Linked DNA regions of Homo sapiens. The protein of the gene in region 2 interacts with the protein of the main gene of each other region in a biochemical or structural test. Each region holds a gene or a part of one and is shown on either strand. Other genes may lie near its edges.

The links.
Region 1: the proteins of MARCHF1 (region 2) and CD86 form a complex in vitro, tested with the Homo sapiens proteins (one study listed by BioGRID).

Annotation. Positions count from the first base shown.
Region 1 is NC_000003.12:122,046,828-122,062,740, forward strand, and holds the start of CD86 (T-lymphocyte activation antigen CD86 isoform 1 precursor), read left to right. Parts: upstream 1-8,534; 5' UTR 8,535-8,662; coding exon 8,663-8,676; intron 8,677-13,592; exon of another isoform or gene 13,593-14,828; intron 14,829-15,913. UniProt on the Homo sapiens protein: Receptor involved in the costimulatory signal essential for T-lymphocyte proliferation and interleukin-2 production, by binding CD28 or CTLA-4.
Region 2 is NC_000004.12:164,376,170-164,391,895, reverse strand, and holds the start of MARCHF1 (E3 ubiquitin-protein ligase MARCHF1), read left to right. Parts: upstream 1-7,876; 5' UTR 7,877-8,026; exon of another isoform or gene 8,027-8,709; intron 8,710-15,726. UniProt on the Homo sapiens protein: E3 ubiquitin-protein ligase that mediates ubiquitination of TFRC, CD86, FAS and MHC class II proteins, such as HLA-DR alpha and beta, and promotes their subsequent endocytosis and sorting to lysosomes via multivesicular bodies.

The DNA.
Region 1 (15,913 bases), on a different chromosome or scaffold from region 2:
TTTTCAAAGTTTTCAACTTCTTTGCCTTTGGTTTGAATGTCCTCCCATAGCTCAGAGTAATTTGACCGTCTGAAGCCTTTTTCTCTCAGCTCGTCAAAGTCATTCTCCATCCAGCTTTGTTCCGTTGCTGGTGAGGAACTGCGTTCCTTTGGAGGAGGAGAGGCGCTCTGCATTTTAGAGTTTCCAGTTTTTCTGTTCTGTTTTTTCCCCATCTTTGTGGTTTTATCTACTTTTGGTCTTTGATGATGGTGATGTACAGATGGGTTTTCGGTGTGGATGTCCTTTCTGTTTGTTAGTTTTCCTTCTAACAGACAGGACCCTCAGCTGCAGGTCTGTTGGAATACCCTGCCGTGTGAGGTGTCAGTGTGCCCCTGCTGGGGGGTGCCTCCCAGTTAGGCTGCTCGGGGGTCAGGGGTCAGGGACCCACTTGAGAAGGCAGTCTGCCGGTTCTCAGATCTCCAGCTGCGTGCTGGGAGAACCACTGCTCTCTTCAAAGCTGTCAGAGAGGGACACTTAAGTCTGCAGAGGTTACTGCTGTCTTTTTGTCTGTGCCCTGCCCCCAGAGGTGGAGCCTACAGAGACAGGCAGGCCTCCTTGAGCTATGGTGGGCTCCACCCAGTTGGAGCTTCCTGGCTGCTTTGTTTACCTAAGCAAGCCTGGGCAATGGCGGGCGCCCCTCCCCCAGCCTCGCTGCCGCCTTGCATTTGATCTCAGACTGCTGTGCTAGCAGTCAGCGAGATTCCGTGGGCGTAGGACCCTCCGAGCCAGGTGTGGGATATAATCTCGTGGTTCGCCGTTTTTTAAGCCGGTCTGAAAAGCGCAATATTCGGGTGGGAGTGACCCGATTTTCCAGGTGCGTCTGTCACCCCTTTCTTTGACTCAGAAAGGGAACTCCCTGACCCCTTGCACTTCCCAAGTGAGGCAATGCCTCGCCCTGCTTCGGCTTGCGCACAGTGCACGCACCCACTGGCCTGCGCCCACTGTCTGGCACTCCCTAGTGAGATAAACCCGGTACCTCGGATGGAAATGCAGAAATCACCCGTCTTCTGCGTCGCTCACGCTGGGAGCTGTAGACCGGAGCTGTTCCTATTCGGCCATCTTGGCTCCTCCCACCTATTTCTTTTTCTTACCCAATTGTTTGGCTAGGGCATCCAGCACTGTGTTGAATAGAAGTGATGAAGTAGGCAGACTTACCTTGTTCCTCATCAAGGAAAAGCTTTCTGTTTTTCACCATTAAGTGTGATGCTAGCAGTGGGATTTTCACATATCCCCTTTATTATGTTGAGGTAAATTCCTTCTTTCCTTCTATTCCTAGTTTGTTGAGGGTTTTATGATGAAAGAGTGTTAAATTTTACCAAGTATTTTTTCTGTGTCTATTGAGATGACCATATGATTTTAATGATGTACCATACTAATTTTCATATGTTGAATCATCTTTGCATTCCAGGGATAAATCCCACTTGGTCATAGAGTATAATCCTTTTAATGTACTATAGAATTTGGTTTGCTAGTATTTTATTGCAGATTTTTGCATCAGGGATATTGGCCTGTAGTTTTCTTTTCTTGTAGTGTCTTTTTCTGGCTTTGCTGTCAGGTTAACACTGGCCTTGTAAAATGAGTTTGGAAGTGTTCTATCCTCTTCAAATTTTTGGAAGAGTTTGAGAAGGATTAGTGTTAATTCTTCTTTAAATGTTTGATAGAATTCACCAGTGAAGTCATCTGGTCTTGAGCTTTTCTTTAATGGGAAGCTTTTGATTGATGATTCAATCTGATTACTAGTTACAGGTCTGTTCAGATTATCTATTTCTTTATGATTCAGCTTTGGTAGGTTCTGTTTCTAGGAATGTGTCCATTTCTTTTAGGTTATCCAATTTGTTGGAACGTAAGTGTTCACAGCAGTCTCTTACAATATTTTTTTAATTTCTGTGGCATCAATTGCAATGTCTCCTGTTTCATTTTTCATCTTATCTGAGTCTTCTCTTTTTTTTTATAGAGACAGGGTCTTGCTACGTTGCCCAGGCTGGTCTTGGACACCTGGCCTCAAGTGATCCTCCTACCTTGGGCTCCCAAAGTGCTGGGATTACAGGCATAAGCCACCATTACGCTTTAATCATTATTTCCTTTCTCTGCTAACTTTGGGCTTAGCTTGTTCTTCTTTTTTTAGTTATTTAACATGTAGGGTTAGATTTTTTATTTGAGATATTTTTAATATGTTTATTGTTATCAACTTCCCTCTTAGTATTGCATTTGCTGCATTCCATAAAGTTTGGTATGTTATTTTCTTTGTTTCTAGATATTTTCTAATTTCCCATTTGTTCAAGAGTATGTTGTTGCATTTCCACATATTTGTGAATTTTCCAATTTTCCTTCTAATATTGATTTCTGGTTTCATTCCATTGTGATTGGAAAAGGTACTTGGTATTATTTCAATCTTAAATGTGATAGGACTTGTTTTGTGATCCAGCATGTGATCTATTAAAAAAAAATGTTCTGTGTGTTCTTGGGAAAAATGTGAATTCTTCTGCTATTAGGTAGAATGTTCTGTGTATGTTTATCAGGTCCATTTGGTCTATAGTGTCGATCAAGCCCCTTGTTAACTAATTGATCTTTTGTCTAGATGTTCTAACCTTTATTGGAACTAGGGTATTAAAATCCTCTATTATTATCATGTTGCTGTCTATTTCTCCCTTCAGTTCTGCCAATGTTTGCTTCATATACTTAGGTGTTCTGATGTTGGTGCATATAAATTTATCATTGTTATATCTTTCTGGTGAATTGAACCTTTTATCATTATATGATGTCTTTCTTTGTTTCTTTTGACAATTTTTGATTTAAAGTCTGTTATGGTCTGAATGTCCCCAAAAATTCATGGGTTGAAACTTAATCCCCATTGTGGTGGTTTTAAGAGGTGGAGCCTCTTGGGACGTGATTAAATAATGAAATATCTGCCTTCATGGATGGATTATAGCCTCATCAAATGCCTAGACAGAACTAGCTTAGGCCCTTTTTTCTCTTCTACTCTTCCACCATGTGAGGACACAGCAATTCATCTCTTTTTGTCCTTCTTCCACCATGTGAGGTTACAGCAAGAAAGCCTTCACAAGACTTGAATGCCAGAACCTTTGACTTCCCAATCTCCATAGCTGTAAGAAATCAATTTCTGTTATTTATAAATTACCCAGTTTCAGATATTTTACTACAGTTGCACAAACAGACGAAGATAAAGTCTATTTTATCTTTTGTAGGTATGGCTACTCCTGCCCTCTTTTGGTTATCATTCGCATGGAATATTTTTCCATCCTTATACTTTCAGCCTATGTGTGTTCTTAAATCTAAAGTGAATCTTGTAGACAGTGCATAGTTGGATCTTATTTTTTTAAAACTCATTCAACTGTGCTATGTCATTTGGGCAGCTTAGTCCATTTATATTTAAAGTAATTATTGATAGAAAAGGGGTTACTATCAACATTTTGAAATTTGTTTTTTGTGTTGTAGCTATTCTGTTGCTCTTTTTATCTCTTGCTATCTTCCTTTGTGTTTCATGGATTTTTTATGGTGACATGATTTTATACCTTTCTTACTTTCTTTTGTGGAAATTCCATAGGTATTTTCTTTGTGCTCACTGTGGGACTTACATAAAACAGCTTATAGATATAACTATCTTTTTAAAGCCGATAAAACTTAAATTCAGCTTCATATAAAAACTTTGCTTTTACTTCCCCCCCCCCACAGTTATGGATGTCACAAATTATATTTTTAATAATGTACAGCCATTAATATATTTTTATAATTATAATTACTTCTATGCTTTTGTTTTTTTTAACTTTTATACCAGAATTAAGTGATTTACACAATACTGTTACACTATTACAGTATTCTGTACCTGTCTATATATCTATCTTTACCAGTTAGCTTTATACTTTCATGTTTTTGTATTGCTGTTTAGTATCTTTCCATTTCAACTTCAAGGACTCTCTTTAGCATTTCTTGAAAGGCAACTCTAGTGATGATCTTATTCTGCTTTTGTTTGTTTAGGAAAGTCTTTATTTCTCATTTTTGAAGGCTAGTTTTGCCAGAGAGAGTATTCTTGGTTGGCTGGTTCTTTTCTTTCAGCACTTTTAATACCTCATCCCATTCCCTTTTGTCCTTCAAAGTTTCTGCTAAGAAATCCATTGCTAATCTTATAGGAGTGTCCTTGTATGTAATGAACTGCTTTTCTCTTGTTGCTTTCAAAATTCTCTTTTTGGCTTTCGACAATTTGATTATAATGTGCTTCAGTGTCTATTTGTTTGGGTTCATCTTATTTAGGCCTATTGGGCTTCTTGGATCTGTAGTCCATTTTCTCCCTCAGATTTGAGAAGTTTTCAGCCATTATTTCTTTAAATGAGCTCTCCAACCCTTCTCTTTCTTGGACTGCTCTAATAGATATATTGGTACATTTGATGGTGTCCAATAAGTCTCTCAGGCTTTCTTTACTTATTTTCTTTGTTGCTATTTTTATTGTTCCTTTTTGCTCCTCTGGATAATTTCAAATGACTTGTAATTGAATTGCTGATTATTTCTTCTGCTTGATCAAGTCTGTAGTTGAACCCCTCTAGTGAATGTTTTAGTTCAGTTAAAATTGCATTCTTTGGCTCCAAAATTTCTATTTGGTTCCTTTTAATATTTTCTATCCTTATTGAATTTCTCATTGGTTCATGCATCACTTTCCTGAACTCATTGAGCATCAATATGATGGTTATTTAGAATTTTTTGTCAGATAATTCATATACCTCTGTTTCTTTAGGATCTGTTTCTGGAGACTTATTTTGTTTCTTTGACTTGACCATTTCCCGTTTCTTCATATTTCTTAGAACTTTGTGTTGGTATCTGCATATTAAAAAACAAAACACACAAACAAACAACAACAACAACAACAAACCAGCCACTTCTTCCAGTCTTTACCAGCCGGCTTTGTACTGGGAAAGACCTTCATAATCTTTAGCCTGGCTAAAGATTCTGGGGACCTCTCAAACATTTTCTGTGGATACGTTTTCTCTGGGCTTATGCACGTAGATTCCTAAGTAGAGAGATTTTCTGGCTTCTCTTTTTTAAGAGTTCATTATCTCTTGCTCCATCTGTTGTCTATCTTCTATAGTGTGTGTCCTCCAAAGTAGCAGCACACTGTCCAGCTCTTTTTTTTTGATCTTGGCAGCCCCTAGTCTTCTAGAGTATGTTAGACCTTCTCTGCCTTAAGTGGGGCTACATGGAAACCAGTCCCTTTGGCAGCCCTTTGAAAAGCCAGAATTCTGGACACATGTTCTATTTTTCTCTTGCCCTCCTGAAGAAGAGGGCACTGAGCTGTATTGGCCTCTGCTGTGCCACAGGTCCTCTGAAATAGCATCATGCTATTTAGCTCTTTGGTTTCTTTTCATGGGGCCCCAGGCATCTAGAGTATGCCAGTGATTCAAGACAGACAAGAAAGAAACCAATCCTATGGGCATCTCCCCATTTCCCCAAAAAGCAGGAATATTGGTTGCATGCTTCACTCTTTTCCATGTCCCCTAGGGATAGGCCACTGAACTGTATCAGTCTGTATCTGCTGTAGCAAGAACCCTCTAGGACAGCAATATATCACCCAGTATTTTTTTGTTCTCAGTGTCCCCCAGGCATCTAGAGTATGGTGGGTCCTATAAACTCTCTAAGACAGGTAAGACAGAGGCTAGTCCCTCAGGCAGCCCCCAGGAAAGTCAGAACTTTGGTTTTTTGTTGTTGTTGTTGTTTTGAGACGGAGCGTCGCTTCTTCGCCCAGGCTGGAGTGCAATGGCGCAATCTCGGCTCACTGCAACCTCCGCCTCCCGGGTTCAAGCAATTCTCCTGCCTCGGCCTTCCAAGTAGCTGGGAGGAATGTGCCAGCATGCCTGGCTAATTTTTGTATTTTTAGTAGAGATGGGGTTTCACCATGTTGACCGGGCTGATCTCAAACTCCTGACCTCAAGTGATCCGCCTGCCTTGGCCTCCCAAAGTGCTGGGATTACAGGCATGAGCCACCGCGCCCGGCCAAAAAGTCAGAACTTTGGATATATGGTCTAGTCTTCTCATTTCTTCTTCAGGGAGAAGCCAAAAACTGGGAATTTCCTCCTAACCATGTGGCCCTGTGCCGAGAGGACAGACTATGGTGAGGGTATACCGTGAATTTTCCTACTGGCTTCAGTGCAGTTGTTTTTTTTGCTCACCTAGTGTGATGTAGCCTCTTAGCCAGCTTCTGGATTTCTCACAAAAGGAATTGGTCTGTGTATAGTTAAGTTAGTGTCTCTCTGGGAGGGAGCACAGGCTGGGGTTTCTCATTCTGCCATCTTGCTGACGTTCACTGTGGTTTTGATTTGCATTTCCCTAATGACTAGTGGTTTTGAGCACATTTTCATGTGATATTGGCCATTTCTATATCTTCCTTGAAGAAATGTCTGTTCAACTCTTTTGCCTACTTTTTAATTGTTTGTTGTTTCTTCTGCAAAGTTGTAGGAGTTTTTTTAATCATATATTCTGGATATCAATCCCTAAACATTTATTGTTTTAAGGAAATAAATTTTGAGATAATTTGTTATACAGCAATGGATAACTAATAAATACTAAAAACTCCTAAATGTATATACTAAATATATTAATTAGAAAATTGTAATATAAAAATACTAAAAGCTAAAACTGTCTGATATTAGGAAGATAATTTTACTACAATATATACCTTTTTTGTGTGTATGAGACAAGGTCTCATTATGTTGCCCAAGATGTTCTCAAACTCCTGGGTTCAAGCAATCTTCCCACCTCAGCCTCCTGAGTAGCCAGGATTACAGGTATGTGCCATTACAGCCAGCTTTCACAGTGTATACTTGATGTACTATTAATGTACTATTTAATGACTACTAAAAAGTTTATGATAACAGGAGAAAATGCTTATGCTATCTTAAATAAAAATTTGAGTGTATGCATTGATACCAAGAAATGGAAATTTGAGTGTGTACACTGCTACCAAGAAACTGAAAAATGACATCCCATACCTTTAATATTTAATATTTATAACAAATGAGGTTTACATGGATTTTTTTATCTCATCTTATTTCTGATGTGTTATGTAGTTATAAATACTATTTTATTTGCACTCCTGCTCTGCAATAATTTTGAAGATAGATAACTTATATTATTGCTGTCTTCATTTTTTAAAATTCTCAAATCCAGATGAAATTATCAAAGTTGATAAAATAATCATTGTTCTATCTTCTTATTTGAAGATTAATAATTGTGTTGATTTTGCTTCCTTGCTCTAGTTAGCAGTGATGTCATCTGCTATTTTTAAACTTCCTTGAAATAATATATGTAATCTACTTCTAATAAGTTTTTCTTATTTAGCATTTTGGTCTAAACTAATTTATAATTATTTAGCCTTATTTCTCCATGTTTAACTTGCTTTAAAGCTCAGCACTGGTGTTTTCAGCCATGGCTTCTCCATTTTAAGGCTATTTTAATTCATTTATTATTCTGGAATATATCCTTAAATAATTTATTTAGGAAGGCTGTCTTGGTGGTGGTATTTCTGTTGCAGTTGTTGTTTTCTTGCCTGCTTGGTGACATATTTCTATTGACTTGACACTTAACTGGCATCTTATCTAGGTAGATAATGCTAATTCAAAATTCTGCAGATATTGTTCTGTTGTTTTTTGCCATTTAGGGTTGAGTAAGATGCCAAGTTGTTTTTTGTTTCTCTGTAGTCATTCTGTTTTCATTTTGTTTTTAGCTTTGCCTTTGGAATTTAAAATGTTCAAAATGATTTGTCTGGATGAGAATCGATTTTCATAACTTTTGCTTTGATACACTAAACAGTTTGAGTTTCTAGATGATGCCCATTTTAATTCATACGAGGAAATATCTTCTAGTATAGTTTCTGCTTGATTAATTCTATGTTTGTCTCTTAGGGACATCTATTAATTTTATAATGCTGCCTTTTTTTCAGACTTCTGTTTCAGAATATTCGCTTTCATCAATGTAATCCTTGGCTATAGTAGGAATGAAATAATAAAAGCAGTAGCTTCTGTCTGCCCTCCTTGGTTATGCAGTCCTTACAGAACATCTCCCCATCTCCCATCCCCCCACCCCAGCTCAGTGAAACTCTCCACACTTTGGTTGTGGAAATTGGCAGGGTTAGGTGGCTACTCACTCCCAATCCACATCCACAATAAATCACTTTTTATTATCTTATCAAAATCTGTAGAATGCCTCTTTATTCTATTTTGTTGCTGCGGAGGTTTGTTTTCTCTTTCTAATTATTTTATTTTCTAGGTTTTTTGAGGGAATTTCAAGAGGGGAGATTTTTTATTCAGGCTCATCTTAACGTCATGTCTGGAACTCAAGCTACTGAATTATATATTCTTTAATACATATAGACCTACGTCAATGAGTTTAAACTGCAAGGAAAGGGTTAAATTTCTTCCTCAAGTGTGGTCAAAATCTGTAGAGAAAAGAGGAACAGCTTCTCTTAAAGAAAGTTAGCTGGGTAGGTATACAGTCATTGCCGAGGAAGGCTTGCACAGGGTGAAAGCTTTGCTTCTCTGCTGCTGTAACAGGGACTAGCACAGACACACGGATGAGTGGGGTCATTTCCAGATATTAGGTCACAGCAGAAGCAGCCAAAATGGATCCCCAGTGGTGAGTAATAATTCTTATTCTTTGCAGAGAAGTTATGAGTTGTGACTGCAGTGAAAGGCTGAGGTTGAAGATGGTGCTTTGATGTGTGTCCTTCACTTAGTTCCTAAGTGGAGAAGCTTTCTTTTTCTACAAAAGATCTTTGGCACATAAAGGCAAGAATTATTTGCAATGCCCAAAGCAGTTCATTGGTGGTAGTTATATATATTTTTAGGTGCCTAATTTTGGTTTTGTAAATCTGTTATTCAAATACTGAATGTTACAGTCATTGATTTTAGTGAAGAATCAGGAATTTTTAAAATATCTGCATAAGAATGACAAATAACAGGGAATATGTTTTTTGTCTACCAGGGTCAGTTTGGTCTGAGGGTGGAGGAATGAGATAGAGAAGGTAGAGGGAGAGAGATCAAGAAAAAGAAAGAGAAAAAAGAGGTATAAGGAGAAAATGCAAAACTCAGTTAATATGTCATAATCAGGCCATGGGAGATTCTGGGCAGGGTTGGGTAGTGGAAGGAGGTAGAGTGATTAAATTAGTTACCATGTATTGAACATGCATGATGTGCTGGGTACTTTACTAGTGCTATTTCATTGAATTTTATTCTTCACAATGACTTTTGGAAAGACATCATCATTCTTTTTGACAGATGGGGTAACTGTGGCTTAAAAAACTTGCCCAAGTTCACACTATTCATAAGGGGTAGAGCTAAAATCTTTCCTGCCCGCTTCGTGGTGCGCCAGAAGGTTTCTCCATGCTGTGGAGACTTCCTGGAAGGAGTCACACCCGCCCTTCTCTTGGGTGGTGGCAGCTGGCGCCAGTCACTATGTATTTATTTATTTTTAATTATTTATTTTTGAAACAGAGTCTCGCTCTGTCGCCAAGCTGGAGTGCAGTGGCGCAATCTCAGCTCACTGCAACCTCCGCCTCTCGGATTCAAACGATTCTCCTTCCTCAGTCTCCTGAGTAGCTGGGACTACAGGCGCCCACCACCACGCCCGGCTAATTTTTGTATTTTTGGTAGAGACGGGGTCCACCATGTTGGCCAGGATGGTCTCGATCTCTTGACCTTGTGATCTGGCCACCTCGGCCTCCCAAAGTGCTGGGATTACAGGCGTGAGCCACCGCGCACCCGGCCGTCACTATGTATTTATAATTACTGTTCTTTGAAAATCGAAGTAACTTTCATCTACCCAGTGCTTACTGGTTTGAGAAAAAGCTTTGTTGCTTTTATTTCAGAAGATTAAAATTTAATTTTCCAGTAAAGATTCCTTTTGCTCCAGTGGAATTTTGAAGCGTTATACTTGTATGAAGAAAAAAAGAATTTCAAAATTTATAATTTTTGTGGTACCATAGAGGGGATACTACTTAATTATGCTAGCACTGTCTGCAGAGGTCTAAAAAACCATAGGCTGCTGTCTATATTGAACTTGTTAAGATTCCTTTTGTTTCACAGTGCCTGAAGATTGGTCATGAACCAGTAATAGCCATTAAACAATGTCTGTTCTCATAAGAGATGAAATAAATACAAATTAAAACAACAGTGAAGTATCATTTTTTCTCTATCAAAGAGATAAATATTAAGTTTTAAAAAGCAAGCAATCAAGAACCCTCTATCTTGCTAAGAAGGGAGGATTATTTGTACCCTAGTTGCGCACTAGTGGTGATATCATCTTTCTGGACAATAATCTAGTGATACATATCAAAAGCCTTTAAAATGTATATGCCCTTTAACCAAGCAATTCACCTTTTAGGAATTTATTCTAAGATATAATAATACATGTTTGTAAAGTTTTAGTGATGGATATTTTTCTTGCTATTGTTTCTAATAAGGAAAATCTTAGAAACAATTTACGTGTTTAAAAACAAGTGATTGGATGATTATGGAACATCCATAATGGAATACCATGTAATTATTTAAAATTCCACTGTAGAACAATTCATAATGTGTTTAGTTAAAGGGGAAAAATGCAGAACGAACAGTGCTATCACTTTTATACATGATACATGTATACAAACAATATTAATCAGAAATATAGGTAGTTTGTATTTTCTACTGTGTGCTTTTCAATTTGAATCCCATCTGTAGGCAGAAAAATAAAGTTAAATATTTAAGATTTAAAAAAAACAATAGCTGGTTTTTTTCAGAGAAGTAACCATCTAGTGATGTGTGATAATTTATAAGTTGTGAGATTCCATAGTTAGGGCTTTAGCCCTTTGCATTTATCTTTCTTCATCTCTTGAATCCTCTTCAAAATACACCCACTCTACCCATAACTCATTAGATCTTGAAAGGCATGTTCTGATAGAATTTTATATTTAGAACAGGCTGCAGCACTCTTCCCTTATTTTACAGAAGTGATTGCATGGCTCTCTAGGGTGAGTTGCATATTGAGAGGGAGGACAGTGCAGTGGCTAAGTGGCCGCACATTGAAGCCAGGCTGCTGGGGTTTGAATACCAGTTCCCCAACTTCCTAGCTATGTGATTTTGGACAAGTTGCTTAACCATTGTAATTCCCAGTTTCTTGTCTGTAAAATGGGAGTATGGTAATATGTCGTAAAGTAGTTGTGAGATTTTAATGAGATAATCCATATCCTGCTAAGTACTCAGGAATTGTTAGTAGTTTTTATTACTATTACTGTTTGGATTAAGAAACAGAGGAAAAGTGATTTGTCCAAGATTATACAACCACTTAATGGCATTACTAAGAACAGAATGGAGGAAGGTTTTTTCCAGCAGAAATGTTCAGTATCCTCTGTGCCTGGCAGGACAACCCCAAGTTGTGCTTTTGGGATGGAGGAGCTGATCTAAAACAAGCAGTACCCAGGACAAGGCCAGCCTCCAGGGAGTGACTGATGACAGTGGGAAGCCAAATGGTAGAAAGGCAGGTGAAGTTAAGGAAACTGAGAGTCAACTTAGGAGCAGGAATGAAGCCTGGAGCAAAGAGCTAGTGCAAGAGAGAGCAGATGACTCAGAGCTACTGGGGCTTTTGTAGGCCACCAGCTATGGGCTTCACGGGAGGTTAATGTGGTTTAAAGTCTCAAGACCTGGGTAATTAAATAGACAAATGGGGTCTAGGTGCATGGGGGAATTTTAAGTATAGCTTTGAGAAGATGCCTAATGGGGAGTAATAATAGAGAAAGAAGCTGGGTGGGGCCAGAACAAGGAGCCCACAGTCCAGGCATCCAGCTATGATCATCCTAAAGGAACAGCCTAAGTTTGAAGAATCATAAACAAATAGAGACATGATAAAATTTACTTTAAAAAAAATCCCTTGGCAGAAGAATGAAAACTGATTTGGAGTGACAAGGAGATCATTTAGGAGACTATTGGAGTAAGCCAAGGAGAAATGGCGAGGGCATGAAACCAGGGCAGTTATGGTGGGATCAGACTGGAGAGGATGCATTTAAGAGATATTTTAGCACCAGAATTGACAGAATTTGGTTTTTGACAGATGTAGACACTGGGAGAGGAGGAGAGATCTAAGTGCATAGTGGCATCCTTCACAAAATGGAAGGTATAGGAAGCAGAGTGGGTTTGCGCCAGGCAGAGAGAAAAGACAGATGGTGAATTCCTTCTCTAACATGTTGAGTTTGAGGTGCCTGTGGAGCAGCTGGATAGAGATGTCCAAGCAGACAAGTAGATATTTAGGTGCAAGTTCAAAAAAGAGGGATGGCCTGGAATGCACATGAAGAGTCTTCTGCATAAGTATGGTTGACAGTTGAAATTCTCATTGTGGGTCAATTCAGTAGCAGAGAGGTTGGAGGATTGAGAGGAAGCCAAGGACAGAACCTGGAAAACCTTGACATCTAAGGAGGGAGATGAGGAAGAAGAATCTACAATAGATACTAAGGAGGGGCTAGAGAGACTGGAGCAGCCCAGGAGAAAAGTGGTGTCATAGAAATCAAGTGGGCCTGTAGTCCCAGCTACTTGGGAGACTGAGGCACGAGAATAGCTTGAACCCAGGAGGCAGAGGTTGCAGTGAGCTGAGATAGCACCACGGCACTCCAGCCTGGGTGACAGAGTGAGACTCCGTCTCAAAAAAAAAAAAAAAAGAAAGAAATCAAGTGGGGAGATGGATGCAAGAAAGAGGAGAATGCATTCATGGAAAGAGCATATTTACCAAGCTTTCCATGTTGAACACATGAGATGTGACATGAAAGGTAACTGTAGTGACTACATGTTAAGCGTTGAATTGTGGCTCCCTTAAAATTCATATGTTGAAATCCTAACTCCCAGGGCTTCAGGATTTGATCATATTTGGAGATAGGGTCTTTACAGAGATAATAAAATTTAAATGAGGTCATTAGGGTGGGTCCTAATCCAAGACAATTGTTGTGCTTATTGTAAGGAAGGGAAACACACAGCGGAAAAGCGGTGTGAAGACACAGGGCGAAGACGGCCATCCACATACAAGCCAGAGAGAAAGGCTCGCAACAGATTCTTTCCTCACAACCTTCAGAAAGAACCAACCCTGTGGAAACCCTAAGTTTGGACTCCTGGCTTCCAGAAAAAAAATAAATTTTTTTTGTTTAAGCCACCCCAGTTTGTGGTACTTTGTTACCACAGCCCCAGCAAACTAATACACTTGGTGAGAGTGCATACAGCCAGAGAAAGAAGCTGTGAATAAGTGCATCAGGGAGGAGGGAAAGAAACCAAAACAGGATTACATCACTTAAATTAAGAGTAGAAACATTTCACAAAGCAGAGTGTAGTCACAGGTCAAATTCTGCAGAAAGGCGAAGTAGGAGAATGACTGAAAATGTCAGTCCAGAGGCCCTCAGTGACCTTGACCTTTGCAGAACACTCCCAGTTGAGTGGAGGCAGTAGACTTTGGAGAGCTTGGAAAATGGAGGCAGCACAGATGGTCTCCTGCAGAAAGTCTGGTGATAAAATGAGACCTCCTCACTGGAGTAAACTCACCTCTGCTGTCGGTGGAAATAATCTGGAGTCAGGCCAGCCAGACCCAGAGTTCTTCCTTCCTCCATTTTAAAGGTTAAACAGAGCTGAGGTCAATGGCTCATGCCTGTAATCCCAGTGACTCAGGAGGCGGAGGTGGGAGGATGGCTTGAGGCGAGGAGTTCCGTTCAAGACCAGTCTGAGCAACATAGCGAGACTCCCATTCCTAAAAAAATTTTAATTTAAATTAAAAAAAAAGGCTAACCAAAAATAAAATCCAATACTTTATTTTTCCCACCCAAAACTAGTTTGGGAAGGATTTCTGGAAGAAAATAATTTTTGCAGTCATTTTACATGTTGGATTTTGAGTGCACATAACATACAGATTCTATTCTGTATTATCAGTTCAGAGGCAAGTTGAGATTTGAGGCTTCGCAGAGGTAAAGCCTCTGGTGAATCTGGTGAGATAAAGAAGAAAACAAGCCCAAGAGGAATTTCAGGGATCATTTATAATTTACATCAATAAACAGAATGGGAAAAAAAACCCATTAGAGTTTGGAATAGAGAAGTATTAAAACACTTTCTTAGAAAGCTTTGAGTCAAAATTAATCTTTCTGTAGTGGCAGGAATATGATAAGCCAAACAACCCTAATGTCACAGCTCTATATTATTAGGTGTCGAATCAGATTTGCACTAAAACATCAAGTAAAAATAAAAGGAATGAACATTTGGTTAAGTGAACCAATTAGTCAATACACGCCAGAAAATGGTAAAACTGGATAAACCTAAAATACTCAACTACCTAGATTAATCAAGGCCAACCTAGATTATCACCCCAATATTACAACTATTTTCAACCAACTAAACAATAAATCTTTATCAAGAGCCTGATAGTTTAAGGTACTGTGATGAATACAAATGAAATTGCTGATACTTTTTTTCAAGTCTATTTAGAAATAGAAACCCACAATTATGAAATGACAAAAACAATTAATGCAGTTAATAATTCAGTAACTTTTAAAAAGAAATAAACATGACAAAAAGTTCATTCTCACCAAATACTAAAGAAATGCCAATTCAAACACCAATGAGATATTTTCCTGTATCAGATTAGACAGTAAAACAAACAATCCAATCAGAAAAATGGGCAAAAGATATAAAAAGACATTTCCCCAAAGAAAATATACAGATGGTGAACAACCATATAAGAGAGTCAACATCATTTGCCTTTATGAAAAAATTAAACCACTACCTACCTATAAAAATGGTTAAAATAATAAAAGATAATGACAACACCAAATGATGGCAGGATGCGGAGAAACTGGATCATGCATACATTGCTTGTTGGGAATGTACAATGGTCAAGCCACTCTAGAAAACAGTTTGGCAGTTTCTTATAAAACCAAACATGCATTTAGTATATGACCCAGCAACTGCATTCTTGGGTTTTGATCCCAGAGAAATAAAAGCCTATGCTCCTGCAAAAATCAGTATATGAATATTTATACCAGCTTTATTCATAATAGTAAAAAACTGGGGAAAAAAGTCCCTCAGTGGGTGAATCGTAACACAAACTGTGTGTGCAAGATGTTACCACTGAAGGAAGCTGGGTGAAGGTACACAGGACTTCCCTGTACATTTTTTCAACTTCTTTTGAATCAATAATTATTTAAAAATGAAAAGTTTAAAAAGTAAAAAAAAAAAACAAAAACTAAAAATGTTCATCTTCACTAAATATTAAAAAAAATGCCAATTCAAACACAAGATATTCTCCTTTTACAAATTAACAATTTATATGGATTTTGGGAGGGTTGGGAGTAATCATGCTAATAAGTATGCAATAAGAGGATACTTTCGTATACTACTGATTGTGGGAATATGAATGGGGAGAACATTTCTGGAAAGCAATATGTCAACAATATCAAGAGTCTTAAAAATGGTTGTACAAGCAGACACCCATTCTGGGCACTGCCAATTTCTCCATGTCCTTAGTACATTTTTTTTCAGTTCATTCAGCATCTTTGTTCCAGGCACTGTGCTAAACATTAAAAATACACCAAAGATGAGTATGAGTAAACATGATTTCTGTTCTCAAGAATTTCAGTTTTGTGGTAAATATATCAAAGGTGATTTTTTATAAGAGTTTTTTATAACAGGGTGTGACGTTTCATAGGAGCATGAAGGTAGCTGTTTCCTATTTGTCTGTAGGCAGTATGATGTCTTAGATAAATGCCAGGGTTTTGAGCTAGTTTGGTTGGTATCAAATAATAAGTAGTTAATAAATCATCTTCTATTTATTAGTGGTATCACTTTGGGAAGCCTATTAGCTTCCTGAACTTCAGTGT
Region 2 (15,726 bases):
ACTCTCTGCTGAAACATGTTTGTGGATAAACATATTTTCCCTGTATCTCTGGTTATTTCTCTATAGCAGAACCTAAAGAAATTTAATCACTACCTCAAAGGCTATAGGAAGTCTTAAAGCATTTGGCATTTGCTGCCAATGTTTTCTAGAAAGCTTGAACGAACATATGTTTATATCTACAATATATACAACTCTTCCTTTGCCCGAAGAAAGTATTACAAGTTATGAAAATCTTTACTTGATACTTGAAAAATTGTGTCTCAGATTTTTTAAACTTGAATTTTAAACTTCAATGTTAGTTCTTTTCTGCAAGTAGTTCTTTTTTGTGTGATTTCTTTATATCTTTTTAAGAAATCTACTGAGGTCTTAGTATTTTATTGATTTCTATATATATTGAATATACCAAATATATCTGTTGCAAAAATTTATTCTAGTTTATTAAACTTTAAATTTGTATGTAGTATTTTTGGTGTTCTGAAATTTTATATAATATTTAATAAAATGTTACTATTTTATCTATAATTTATTTCATTGCTTGTAATTTAGATATTCCTTTCTTTCTGTCATAAATGTCTATTTTTATGTTCTTCCTAATTATTTTTAGTTATTTTTAGTTTTATAATGTTTAACACAAATCTTTCTAGACTCATTTTGCTTTACTTTATAACCCAAATAAAGCAAGGGTTTAACCTTTCTGAGCATGTTTTCTCTCCTATAATATAAAATGGAAATAAGATTACCTACCTTAGAACATTGCATGAGGCTTAAATTAATACATGTAAAGTGCTTAGAACAGTGCCTGACATATAGTAGATATTCAATAAATGTTAATTCTTATTCTAATGTCTAGAAATATCTAAAAAATAAAAAAATTTTCACAACTCATTTGGCAGAGAACTGACATGAAATGATATGAGGCTCATTTTATCACACTCAGCATGAATCTTTATATATTTCACTGCAGACATATCACTATGTTTGATTTTATGGCGCTGCCCCAAACAACAGTGGGATACTACACAAAATGCAGTATATAACTTATATTCCCTTTTTAAAAAAAACAAAGGATAAAAACCTTTGGAATGCAATTTGCCCCGAATCCAGGATTTCAAGTTATATTAGTTATTGATCAGCTGCTAATTGATAGGTATTATCTTAGGTGTCTTAGTCTATTCAGGCTACTCTGACAAAATACTATAAAGTGAGTGGCTTATAAACAATGTTAACATATTTCTCACAGTTTTGAAGCTTGGGAAGTGTAAAATCAAGATGCTGGCAAATTTAGAGTCTGGTGAAGGCCTACTTCTTGATTCATAGATTGAAACTTCTTGCTGTGTTCTCGTGTGGTGGAAGAGGCAAGGAAGCTCTCTTAGGCTTCTTTTAAAAGGACACTAATCACATTCATGAAGGCTCTGCTCTCATGATTTAATCACTGTCAAAGGCCCTTAGCTCCTAATACCATAAATTTTATGATTAGGTTTCAGCTTGCAAATTTTGCAGGGACATAAATATTTACACCATAGCACTAGATGTTGTCTATATTCCATTATTTTACTGAATCATCACAGTGATCCAATCATACATTCATTTATTCAACCAATATTTTCCAGGAACCATTTAGAGTGTCTTGGTTATATTATTAACAAAACAGATTAATTTCTCCTTCCTTCTTTGAGATAGCATCTTATTTCCTTAAGTCTACATTACTACTCCTTGTTACAACTAATAAAATAACTTTTGCAGAGGTGAAAATTAGTACTACCTTAAAAGCACACTGTGGATGAACAAATATCTTGATTTTCAAAAAATTAAACTGAGGAAAAATTAACTGTATTTTAGAGGAGCAAGTGGGGTTCAGAGACATTAAAATATATTAATTAAGTTATAGTAAATGGTAAGCTGGGGTTCAAAACTTTTCAAAGGCCACACTTCCACTGTTCCATATTTATGTCTAAAGGAATAAAAAATAAAAAAGACCCCCAACAGAATAGATCTTTTTTTTCCACTCCTGTTCTTTCTCTTCCCTTCTTGTTATAGCCACCACTATCAGCTATACATAATTGAGTGTCCTGTACCACTGAACGGGATGTAGCTCAGGAGGCTCCCTTTAGATCTGTAGAACTATTACACTCCCTTTGTATCATACTTCCACTCTACTTTCTTTTCTCATAGAACTCTCTGAAGTGAGCGATATATAAGGCAGATGTTATTAATTTCCTTTTCCAAATGAAGAAGATAAGGTGGCTAGGTGAAATGAATTACGTAAGTCATAAAAGACATCATTAAGAGAACTAGATTCAGAAGCAAGGTTATAGTACTCTGAGCTCTTCCATTCGACTCTCAGGGTACTTCAGAAATTAAAGTTGACTTGGAAAATCAGGAATGTCTATTAGAAGACTCTAATATTATATATATGTTTTTTCCTCAGAAAATATATTTGTCAGGGTTTTTCCCCATGATAGCTAAGAAGATATAGCTGTGGGAAAAACATCTGCTATAAAGATTAAGGACTATGACTAAAAGATCAGCAAATTATCTTTCTTTGGGCGTATTTGGATCTGTGTTATCTTTAATCCCATGCCTATAAATGGGATCAACCAAGGTAATTGAAGCAATTTGAGGAAATATATATGGCCACAGGATCAGGGTGGAAATAATGAAAGCAGATCACTAATACTACTGTTACAGCTGAATAATATGAGCACTTTCTCAAGAAAAATCTCAGTCTAAGAGGATAAATCAGCATCTTTACTTCTCAAATACCTTTATTTTAGGAGAAAATTGTATATATACATGTTCCTTCATAGCATTAGGCTGTGAAGGAATGTGTATATATACAATGAGATTCCTTTGCTTTCCACAAGCAGTATGTCCATTCTGCAATAAGTTCTTCCTTCTAAAAAAAATTTCCTCAATCTTTCCTGTACCTTTAAACAAAAGCAATTCATATAAGACCTCTTCTATGTCATGTTAGTGCCAATGACCAGCATAAGTGACAAAGCAGCTGGAGAATTAACTAAAGCCACGGGATGGGTCCCCGTCCTGTCAAATAAAGATATTTAATGATAGAAGAATGTACTGGAACCAAAGTCAAAATAACACTAATATTTAGATCCCAAGTATGCAATAAATAAATTTGTACCTGCTAACATATCTTATGAGTACCAAGATAGCCCTTGTTTGTTTAAATGGTTTATATCATAAATGAGCAATTAATTCAAAAAGCCAAGTTAGCAGCATACTTTGAAAAAAATGATAATTTGTTATGTGTACCTTTTAACCATTTCACACATTCTCTCAAATAACCCTTATTAACAGAGTTGCCAAACATCAGCAATTATGAAACAAGATAAAATAAAAAAAAGACTTTGAAAAAGTCTACACTAAACCTTTCTGTTTAAAGAAGCTTTGGTTATATATCTGTGCCCAGGGAATATTACTTTCTATGATAAAAAACATACTGGGTCTTTCAGGTCCAATATGTAAAGTGATCTATTTTCCTTGTTAATATTCACAGTAGGAAGAAAAGCCTTCATTTGGATGGGTGATGTAGTTTTCTCTCCCAGGGCTACTGATGGATTAACTGTACAGAGAAAATAGTTGCTGAGGTAGTCTTTATCTTTATTCAAATGAATGGTTTATGGCTCTTTTTCTTTTTTATTTCATTTTGCAATGATCTGTCTTCAAGTTCAAAAATCACTGTACCTTGCTTTATGTCTGAAACTGTTTAAGAATAGATCCAAAACCAAAATTTATTTGGTAGCCTGAGATTCTTTTTCTTCATAAATAACTTTGAAAGCATTTCATTTGCAGGGATAATGGAAATAAAATTAGTGATGAATTTGTTAACTGATGGAAAAGTTCACAAAATCATATTATTTACTTCATCAAATAGAATATATATATGTGTGTATATATATGTATATATAATGTATGCATGTATATAACATTTTATTTTTTCATATTTCATTTTTTTCAGTGGAAAAAATACCTAAAATTTGCAAGTATGCTGTTATGAGGACACACTTTATATGTTTAGGCTGATATACTCAAATTTTAATTTGATTTGTTACTAGTTTAGTTGCCTGGACGATTTTTGTAACCTCTGTATGTCTCTGTTTCCTCATCTTCAAGAGAGGTTAATACACTTGTATCATGGGGTGATTTGAAGAGCAGATGGAGTAACATATAATAACTTAGCACAGTATTTGGCACATGATAAGGACTTACTGATATTATTTCTGTGTATTATGTATCAACAATTAACAAATTTGTATGTAGGAAAACTTGTTTTTAAAAGTCAAGGTTGGGCACAGTGGCTCAGGCCTGTAATCCCAGCACTCTGGGAGGCCAAGGTGGGCGGATCACCTGAGGTCAGGAGTTTGAAACCAGACTGGCCGACATGGTGAAACCCTGTCTCTACTAAAAATACAAAAAAAAAAAAAAAAAAAAAATTAGCTGGGTGTGGTGGCGCATGCCTGTGATCCCAGCTACTCGGGAGGCTGAGGCAGGAGAATTGCTTGAACCCAGGAGGCAGAGGTTGCGGTGAGCTGAGATCACACCACTGCACTCCATCCTGGGTGACAGAGCAAGACTCTGTCTCAATAAATAAATAAATAACAAATAAGAATAAAAATAAAAGTCAGTAGCTATAAATGAGTCTATCAATTTAAATGAAACCAGAGTATAAAAAGTTTATATTCTGTGGAATTCACAAATAAAAAATGTTAAAATATGTCTATTTTTCCCACCAAAGCACTTGCTGCTTTTGTGAAGAGACTCATGTATCAGTATGAAAATGGTACAGTAGAGCATCAATAATTGAGGCAGAAATAATATATCTACTCTAAATCTTCAATTCCAAGGTTTAATATATTCACCATTTAAATGTGATTCAAATGTAAGTTAGGTTTGCAAAATATGATTTCAGACTTTTTTTTGGCTAAGACTTACGATACTTTTACATTTTCTCATGTAACAATTAGATGTTTTAGTTATTTATAGCATCCATTTGGATAAAAATATTTCAAAATATTCAAACACCACGTTTTAAGAATTACAAATAAAAAAGCATGCAGTAGTAGTGGAAAATGTCAGTGGCACAGGCAAAGGTGTTAGTAGGTTGGGACACATTAGGAAAGAAGTTATTGTAGAGATACAGTAAATTCACTTTGCTAAGTTCAGGGTCCTGAGTGATTGCCACAGCACAGTATTTTCAATTCCCAAAAAAGTCCCAAATCACATACTGAAGATATTTTCACAGAAATAAATACATTATCATGTAAGAATGCATTTTTTCTTTAAAGTAAGAGATTTAGGTTTTGCTTTAATTCCTTAGAGCAGTGATGAAAAAGAAAAAAAGCTGAAGGATGCATTTTCCGATCTTTATGGCTACTATTATAAATTCCCCAGATCTGCTAACTATGACCTTCTTCTTGTCTCCATTCTTATGAATTAGTCCAGAGAATGCTGAAGAACTGGAAGATAAACAGAGGCAAAGAAGATAGATAGGGCATTAAAGAACCAATCTCCTAGGGAAGGTTTACAACTTGACCTTCTGATGCACTTAGAACAGTGTCATTAGCAGTACTAATTACTTTTTTCAAGCCATTAGATTGTTTTCCTATTCTCAAAGACTGCCATTACTTACATTTCCAAATTTTTACCTTTTCTCCTGGTTTACTTCCCATTTGGCCCCGATTGAAAAAAATCTTTATTATTTTGGTATTTAAAAATATTTGTTTCTAACATTTGTTCAATCATTTGATATGTTATTTTTTACTTATTATATAATGATATAAATACTAGTGATCCCTAAAATATTTTAATTTGAAAATAAAAGTGAACACATAGATTTCACAAAGTACATGCATCACAATTTTTTTATACTCTATTAGTTTTTAATTTTTATAGGTACATAGTGGGTATATATATTTATAGGATACATGAAATATTTTGATACAGGCATACCGTGTGTAATATTCACATCAGGGAAAATGGGGTATCATTGCCTCAAGAATTTATCATTTCTTTGTGTTATAAGCATTTCAATTATACTTTCAGTTATTTGAAAATATACAATAAATTGTTGTTGACTGTAGTCACTGTTGTGCTATCAAATACTAGATCTTCTTCATTCTATCTATCTATATTTTTGTACAGCCTCTGGTAACCATCACTTGAATCGCTATCTCTGTGAGTTCAGGTGTTTTAATTTTTAGCTCCCACAAATGAGTGAGAACATGCAAAGTCGGTCTTTTTTGTGCTCAGCTTATTTCACTTAAGGTAATGACCTCCAGTTCCTTCATGTTGTTGCAAATGACAGGATCTTATTCTCTTTTATGGCTGAATATTACTCCATTGTGTATATGTGCCATTATTTTCTTTATCCATTACACTGATAGTTTATTTTTTAAAATAATTTCTGATGCTGCTTTTTCATACTTATTACTTTTTCCTCAGAAAAGTCCCATTGGATTTCACAATTTCACAATGCAATAAGAAGCCTATCTGATAGTGAGTAGCCTTTAAATTGTTGTTGTTATTATTTTATTGAGTCCTCTTTGTATTTACAAAGATTAAGGAGTTTCTAACCGTATCTACACTTGTAATAAATGTTATTCTTAGTCTTCACACTTGTAAAGGATAATGGTGATGAATGCAGCGGCAGAGGCTGCACGTTCCCACCCAGCACTCTCACTGAAGACTGCCTAATCAGCACTGGCTGCTGGTACTTTTCTCTGCAAGCTTAGTCTCTTCCAGGAATGACAGGTGGTAGGTAATCCTGGGAACTCAAGAGCCTCCTTGAAGCTTGGACTGATTAGAGCACAAACCATGAGCTGTTGAAATCTGGTCCCTGAACAGGAGAGTTTTTGACATGAAGCTGCTCTAGATTGCTGTAGGGCTGGGTCTCAGATCTGGTGTATCTGCCTGTTTCCATGAAAAGAGCGGAATCTTCAAAAATACTCAGGCTGTTTGTCTATTCCTCTAATAAAACTTCTATTGATGTTATATAGAATCTTGAGCAAAAGATTTGGCATCGCACCTTTTATGAGTTTCAATAAACCTTGTGATTTAAATAGTTTCATCATTGATGACAGTCTTTGGGTGAGGCCACAAGAGAGTCGCTTCTCGAGTGTCCATTAGTATATGGTGGGAAGACAGGAGGTCAATACTAAGGCTAGGAGTGAATTGCTACTGGTGCCTTCTTGCCTCAGACCAGCGGTCTTTTCGGTGTTCATGTCATAGATTGTTGAGGTCCCCTCGTTGTTTAATGTTTTGCCTCAGACTCCCGCCTGTAAACAGTACACATCTTTCTCCCTCACTTTAGCTGCTCATCATTTAAGCTGTCATTGGTCAGACATCCTAAACTTTCTCATTGTGACTAGGGCTCTGAGGGTTCCAGGGGTTCTAATTATTATCGTGGCTGCAGTGTAGGTGTCCATCACCGAGATGGGGCACCTGAGCTACTGAGCAGCCAGAAAAAAACTTTCTCCTTATCCTTGGCATCTGCCATCAGTTTAAGTACTGATTTAGGAATCTTTACGGCAAAGAAGAGGCTCTTCATCCCCGGCCCCATCCCCACCGCGCCCACCCGGCCCACATACACCCTCGGAGCCTGCTTTCCGCAGACTCCCCTATGTCCTGTCCTTGACTCCAGTTAACCTGGAGATGCTAGTTCTGGGAACTCCTAGAGGCTCTGTTGCCTCCTCCGCCTGCTCTGCGTTCCCCGCGTGAGCGCTGGATTATTCCAGTCTTTGAGCATGGCAGATTTCCACTGGATGACATCATGGGAGCCCAGTGAATGCCGGCTCAGAGAGGGGGACGGAGAAGGGGAGGGGGAGCAGAGGAGGGGAGAGGACTGGGGAGCCGAGCCAGAGCCGGGCTGCCTGCCACCCGGCTGCTCGTCCGCTAGCTGGGGAGGAGCGCTCCACCCGCAACTGACAAAGGATGGGAGAATGCCCGCGCCCCGGGATGCCGGCCGCACGCAGCCTGGCGGCCGCCTGAGCTACTTCACCCTCCGCCGGTAAGTGACTGCAAACATCATTCATTCAATCAGCCTCACTGGGAGCCCCTTCTCTCCGGCTGGTAGTCCTGGGCGGCTTGTCCCTGATCCCGAGCGGGGCTTGGCACAGCATCAGCCCTGGAGGGCAGGCAGCAGGTGCCTTTGCCTGGTGGGTCCACTGGGGAGCGTGGCTGGGGTTCGCGGCGGGTGCTGCCACCCAACCTGCGGGCGGCGGGCTCGCCCAGTAGGCGCCTCTCTGGTGAGAGGAGGCGGCTCCAGCCCGCAGCCTGGGGTAGTTGCTACTATTGGCCCCCAGCGCCCGCTCTGCGCGCGCGCCGTTTCTGGCGGATCCCCAGTGCGCGGCGCGCTGTTTACACCGGCGTGGTACTAGTCACGGAGCCGCACCCCTCGGAAAGCGCGGAGTCGATGACAGCCACTTCACAGGCTCACGCGCTCCTAGTGTGGGCTTGAAGGGGACGGGGACCGATTACCAAAGGAGAGCGCTGAGTACGGAAGACACAGGGCAGCCTTTGTCTTGGGTTTAGCGCTGATGCGCTCAACCCTGAGTCGGGTTCACTGCAACTGTTGTGTCCGATTTCGGTTCCCTGCAACCGCCCTCCTGGGCGAGAGATGTCATTGTGTTCCTGCGGCCAGCGGGACTGAGAGCTGGGACTTAAGACGCCAGGAGGGTCCTGCGCTCACGGGTGAGTGTCGCAGTTATCCAGGTGCTGAGGGAGTTTCTGGAGCTCCAGGAAGTGGAGTGACCAGTCGAGGCAGAGAGACGCCCAAGTTTTATCCCCAAATGGTGTGAGGGAAATGGCAAAGTTAAGGGAGACTCACTCTCGCTCTTTTCTCTGGTTTCTGAAGCGCTGATTTTGGAGATTTGTGACAGGTGAATGGAATCAGAGGCATGGCCAATATGTAGTTAGAGAGCCTCACGTTTTCCTGGCAATTCTTATTGTTATTCAGTAGTTCCAGAAAAGATTTGCTTGCTAAACATTTTTGAGATCAAAATGTTTTCTATTATAGAGCTCTGTGGGTTTGACGAAAAAAGATTCTGAACCTGCTCAGGTACCTTAGTTTAGAGTTGTCTCGCCTATAAGTGCTATATAGCCAACATGCCAACACCCAACCCCCTGGCTTTTTGCTTGGCGGACACAGGTTTTATTGATGAATTCCTTGTTTAGGAGGTTCAATTTTCAGATCACAAGGAAGCGGTGGTACCTATCAGAACATCTGTTTCTAATGTCAATGTGTTTACAAAAGGAATATCTCGTGAAAAAGATGGAAAGAAGTGAAAGTTTGCTACTTTGGGGGTTCAGTGACTTTTTCTGTTTTCATCCACTACAATCGAAAATATTTAAACTTTAAATAGTAATTTTGTATGTATGAATTTAATGTATATTAAATGTAAATAATCCTTGAACATTAAGGAGATTCTTGGTATACCAGTTTGGTATCCCAGCATCTAACATAATGCTATGGTATAAGAAAGCAACAATCACAATAATAATTCAAAGGGTTATTTTATTTTTCTTGAAAGAGGCTAATTTTTCTTCAGATGATTTTTTTTCTTTAAAGATAGATGATTCTAATGAAGCTTTTCTGAAACAGGATTGAAATAATTTTTCTTAGTGATTGCTCTTTTGATAAAGTTTGAGTCTTTTCAGAACAGATTTGATAGAAAATTATTGGAATAATCAATGTGGTGGAAGTTAAAAAGAAACTGGGTGAGATAATACAGGGAGGCTTTACTAAATATGAATGGTGGGACTATCAGAAGGTGCTGTGTCAGTTTTGATTTTGGAAAAGCTCATTGTAGCTTTTACATGCGTATCTCTACTGGGAAGTGCATAATTATATGTCTGATTATGTCACGCTATGTTGAGAGACCAATGTTATGAGCAAAGAGCTTGTTTTAATCCAGGACTTATGGGGTTGTCAGCAACGTTTTCTTCTGTGATACAGTTTTTTTTATTTCATTGTTTCTTGACTAATTGTCACAATAGGCTCCACCTGTTTTATCTGAAGTCGTCTTTCTAACTTTGTTGTACTATGTTTTTATGATAATGGGGTTTTACTTTAAGGTTCTTAGAGAACCTGTTGCTCATGTTGACTACTTTCCTCAAGTATTGTAATAGCAAAAACTCTTTTTGAAATAGACTTATGAACGTACGAGCTTCTGACGTGCTTACATGATGGGGTGTACACTATATAAAAATCTACATTTACATACAATATGTGTATAACTCTGATCAGATAATCAGCTAGCAATGATCAACAGGAGGTACTGTGGTGTTTGGCTCATGGTTTTTGGCATATGATATTACCTTTAGCGATAAGATGTTTTACCTCCTTAACATGGTAAATAAAAATGTATATTGAGAAGAACAGATTACATTTTATGTATGAAATCTTTAATTTTATTTCAAAAATATTTTATCCAAGAAGGTCAAAAGTACATAGATTCTTCACATTCCACTAGAATACTGAGAAAATTTCTCAGAAAGTATAAGCATATTATAAATAGATATAATTTGACTTATTTGATAGCTAGTACAATATTATTTTTAAAACCACATGGAGTAAAATAGTGTCCTTGAACTAGAGAGTATTCTCATAATGTTCTTTAATGTATTTCACACATACTTTGCCTATTTTGTTGCACAAGGGCTCTTAACTGGGCAAGGTGAGAAAAAGGAGGAAGTTGCATTATAGGGCAAAAATAAAGCCATAGCACAAAGCCCAGGGCAGGCAATAGTGATGTTCCAAGGTCACCGAAAAACATGATGTCAGGACACTGGGAAGTATCCATGGAAAGATCCTGTATGAAGAATAAGTTTATGCTGTTTGACGACCTCTTGCTTTCATTGTTCCAGTTGTGTGATTTAACAGATACTTTAGGACCTCTATGATAGAGCGAAACGTCCTTTACCCACCTTGAGGCAAAATTGTGTCTTAAACTCAATGAAGAGGTTGTCTTCTGGGCTTTTTCATGGTGTAATTCAAATTCTAGCTTAAGGATGTTTTATGGATCACAAAACATTGTAGCTTTCACTTTCCTGTAGGCCTTTGATAGGGAAATTGGTCAGTAAAACCTTGGCTGAAAGGTTTTTGCATCCTAACTTTTTCTGGAAATACAACAGTGAAAGTCAACGGTTATAGTGTTGCTGAAAATATTTAGGAGTGTGATGATCTAATATTTAGAGGGTTAAAATAATGCTGTTAATGTAGCTTTAAAAATAAAATAAAAATATTTGAGACAAATTCTCTGAAGCCACGATTATCCCTTTGCTATATATTGGGTTCATTTTGCAATTTATGACTCCCCTATGATACTATTAATTCATTTCTACCTCCTAGTGTTTCAGTGATGAACAGTGGTAGGAAATATGTGTTCTACTTTTGACTTTGTCATGTACTTGAGGACAAGGGTCGGAGTCTGTAAACATTAGTTTCATTTTACATAAAATAAAGATGATAATATCTGCCTTGCCTTTCTCATGGGGGACAGTGCATAGCAAATGAACTAGTGTACAAAAATGATTTGGAAAATTCAGGAGGAACTGTGACAAATATTATATATTAGTGAACTTAATCACTTTAAATTTCTAATTAGTTTCAGTTAAAGAAGTAAATTGATAGAGGTGAACCTAATGTGTGAATTCTATTTTATTAGGTTGGTGCAAAAGTAATTGTGGTTTTAGAATATCTGGTATGTTAAATTTGTGGCATTCTTGTCAATGCACTTATAATTTATTCATAAAAATTATGAAGTAAGTGGTTATGTATTTTTATTGCAAGTGTGCTGGCAACAAATTCACTCAGTTTTTGTATGTCTGAAAATATTTTTAAATAGATGTAATTTTTAAAGCTAAGTATAGCATTTTTGTTTGGCAGTTTTTTTTTTTTCAACATGTTGTTATTTTTATTTATTTATTTTTGAGACAGAGCCTCACTCTGTCACCCAGGTGGAATGCAGTGGCGCAATCACTGCTTACTGAAACCTCTGCCTCAAGTGGTTCTCGTCCCTCAGCCTCCTGACTAGCACCATGCCTGGCTAATTTTTGTATTTTTAGCATAGATGGGGTTTCACCATCTATGCTAAAACTCCTGGACTCAAGCAATCTGCCTGCCTCAGCCTCCCAAAGTGCTGAGATTACAGGCATAAGCCACTGTGCCCGGCCAACATTTGTTATTCTTTTGACTTCTCACTTCCATCAAACCTGTCAGTCATATTGTTGCTATGAGGGTAAATGTGTCTTTGTCTCTGGGTGATTTTATGATTTTTCATTTGCCATTATTTTCTTTAGTTTTCTATATATTGCTAGGTATAAGTTTTTTGGATTTATCCTCCAAGTTTGCAGAGCTTCTTGAATTTGTGGATTGTTATCTTTCATCAGGTGAAATTCATTGGTGAATTCTTGACTATTATCTTCTCATAGATAGCTCTACTTCATTGTGTCTGTTTTCCTGAGATCTGAGTTACATGTTTAATAGATGGTTTCACTGTACCCAACATGCTCCCTGTACTTGTTTTACTATTTTCTACTTTTTTTTTCTCTCTGTGCTTGTTTGAGTATTCTTTTGACCTTCTCTTCAGTTTACTAACCTTCTACACCATGCCTGTTATACTGCTCATCCACAGGTTATTACTGTAATTATTGTATTTTTTTAAATTTCCAAGTGTACATTTGATTTTTTCTATAGATTCCAATTTATCTGTTTTCTCCATCTTTTCTTCTATGACTTGGAGCATATTAATCAAACTTATTCTAAGGTTTTAGTCTGCTAATGTCAGCTGTATTGCCGTGAGCCTCTTTTCAGCATATCTTTACTCTTAATTTTAGTTATTGTATATAAAAATTATAAAGACTCAGCCAGGTGCAGTGGCTCATGCCTGTAATCCCAGCACTTTGGGAGGCCTAGGCAGGTGGATCACCTGAGGTCAGGAGTTCGAGACCAGCCTGGCCAACATGGTGAAACCCCATCTCTACTAAAAATACAAAAAATTAGCCAGGCATGGTGGCAGGTGCCTGTAATCCCAGCTACTTGGGAGGCTGAGGCAGGAGAATCACTAGAACCTGGGAGGCAGAGGTTGCAGCAAGCCAAGATCGTGCCATTGCACTCCAGCCTCGGTGACAGAGTGAGACTCTGTCTCAAAAAACAAAAAACAAACTTATAAAGGCTCCAGATGATCTATACATCCCCAAAGAAGTATCAACATTTCCTCTGCTAGACAGATACGGTGGGATGGTAGCCCATAGTTGTAATCCACCCAGTGACTGAGCTGACTCACAAGTTGTTAGACTTCTGGGCTCCCAGATGCCAAGGCGTAGCCACCGCACCCAGCCCAGATGTCTTGAACTTCTACTGGTGCATTCACAGGCCCTCAACACAAGCCAGGACAAGACTCCTGAGAATCCGCTCTTCTTTCCAGAAGCTTCCTTCTCAGTGTCTTAGCCTCCACTCATATGTGTAACTTCAGGCTTTAGCAAATCTCATGTAGGTAAAATCAAGTATGTGTCAAGCTGAGCGCTACACCTTTTACTTCTCACTGAGCTCTTGGCCCCTCATAGCTAATTTTGTCTCTCCAGTCCCTCAAGACTGCCAAAATCTCTGCTAGATTCTTTGTCTCACATCAGTGGTCCTCTGCTCAGGCAAAGCCCGTATTCTTAGTCTCTCACTGTCTTTCCAGATTGGCAATTGCCCCCACTCTTCATCCCGGGGAAAAAACATATTGTGAAAAGTCACATTACCTCCTTGGTACTTCTTCCATCTGTAATCTTGAAGCTTCTAGTCTTGACCTCTTCTGAAACTCTCCACCAGGTTTTATCAGAATACTGTCCTTATATCTGGCTTTTCTAGTTATTGTTGACCAAAACCATCAGCTGAAATGTGTCATTATTTTTAACTGATAATAAACATAGATGTACAGTGATCAAAGATCATTTCTTGATGGTAAAACTGGAGTTAGTAGTCCCATCCCACAGCCTCCTACGCAATACAGCTAACTCCAAACGTATTTTTAGAAGTGGTATAAAACGAAGGCAGGTTCTATCAAACAGCCATTAATATACTATGTGCCATTTTATATTGAGACTGTTTGTCTGTTTTTTAAATTTTGAGGTAAATCTTTGTGACAGTGAAGACCAGTAATTCAAATAGCCAATAGATTAAAGTTATTGGTAACTAAACATAATAAATTGGTAAAACTTTTGTTTCTTTTAGGACTAATACACACCCAAAAATACAGACACAGACACATGTGTGTATGTGTGTGTGTGTGTGTGTGTGTGCATAAAAAGTAAGGCTCCTTTCTGAACACAAGAACTCCATGGTTAACGAATCATTCTAACTTACAAATAAGCGCTACATTTATGGAGTGAAAAATGTGTGAAGTCTGGAGTCTCCCTCTTCTTAGAAACAACTGTCCTATTTTTCCAACTGTTGGCTCTGAAAAGCAACTGATACAGACTGATTTCTTGTGAAATACATACAATAGTGTTAACAAGCTAGTACTATGTTTATCTCTTTTCTTATTGGTATATGGATAAAACTCAGAACGTATTTCTAGACCAATTCACGGAAATATAGTTAATTCAGGTTATACCTGAAGTAGATTGTTAGAGATATATGATTTAAATTAACTGTGCTTTTATGGATTGACCTAGAATTTTTGTTAAGTCTGCCTGGTGACGGATGGATTGAACTATTACATGTAATGTTATTTTTGAGTGACTTGTATGTTGCAGGTAACATATTCCAGATAACATATTCCAGAAATCACTGACTATTTGGGACACAATGATTGGAAGTCGGAGAATGCCTGGAATAGATTCTTGTGCCTGCCTTCAATTCAGTGTCCTGAGGCACATCAGGAGATAAATGGAAGCTTGGTGAGAGTGATAAATTAGGTACTGACATTGAGGCTCATTGGGGCTGACTGTGGTGAGCAATGATCTGATTCTCATGAAGTATATCACATGCTTTTTGGACCCTGCCGGATGTCCTGTCAATCTCACATCTGTTTCTGGCTCTGGCTCGGGCAATCATTGTAGGCAGCCTTTGACTCAGTTGTGCTATTTCCCATCTCAAGCTTGCGCTGAGTATCTTTCACTTTCTTTTCTGTGACTTTACTAGCATGTCTTATCTTTCCCCCTGCTTCTGACCGTGGTCCATGCAGCCTGGAAGTGAGGAGGAGCTAACACCACCATGGAGCCTCGCAGTCAGTGGGAATGGGTGGATAGTTCCGAGACGCACTCTGCAGCTCCTCATAAGGTCCAAGTGAGAAGGAGCCTCAACCGGCCATGGAAGTGACCCAACTGCATGCACCTGTATTAGCCTTTACTCTCTCCCTGGTTCACTTTACCCGGTGCCTCACTCCTACTCTCCGGGATCACCTTGTATTATTTGCACATAATTTTTTAGTTCAGACTCTGCTTTTGAAGAGAGCCTGGCCTAAGATTTATGACTTTCCTTCTCTAGAGAAAAATGAATAAGAGAAAGAAAAGCAGGACTAAATCATAAGCTACATCCATTACAATGAGAGAAAAAAAGAAAGAAGATAAAACATGTATTTTCAGAGATACTTTCTTTACAAATCTGTCATCTTTCAGATCACCAAGTGAGACCATTTAAATAATTTTTCTAGTAACTGTGAGGTCATCTGTTGACATAATGATTAATTTGCATCTCTTCCTTCTTTTTTACTATACTTT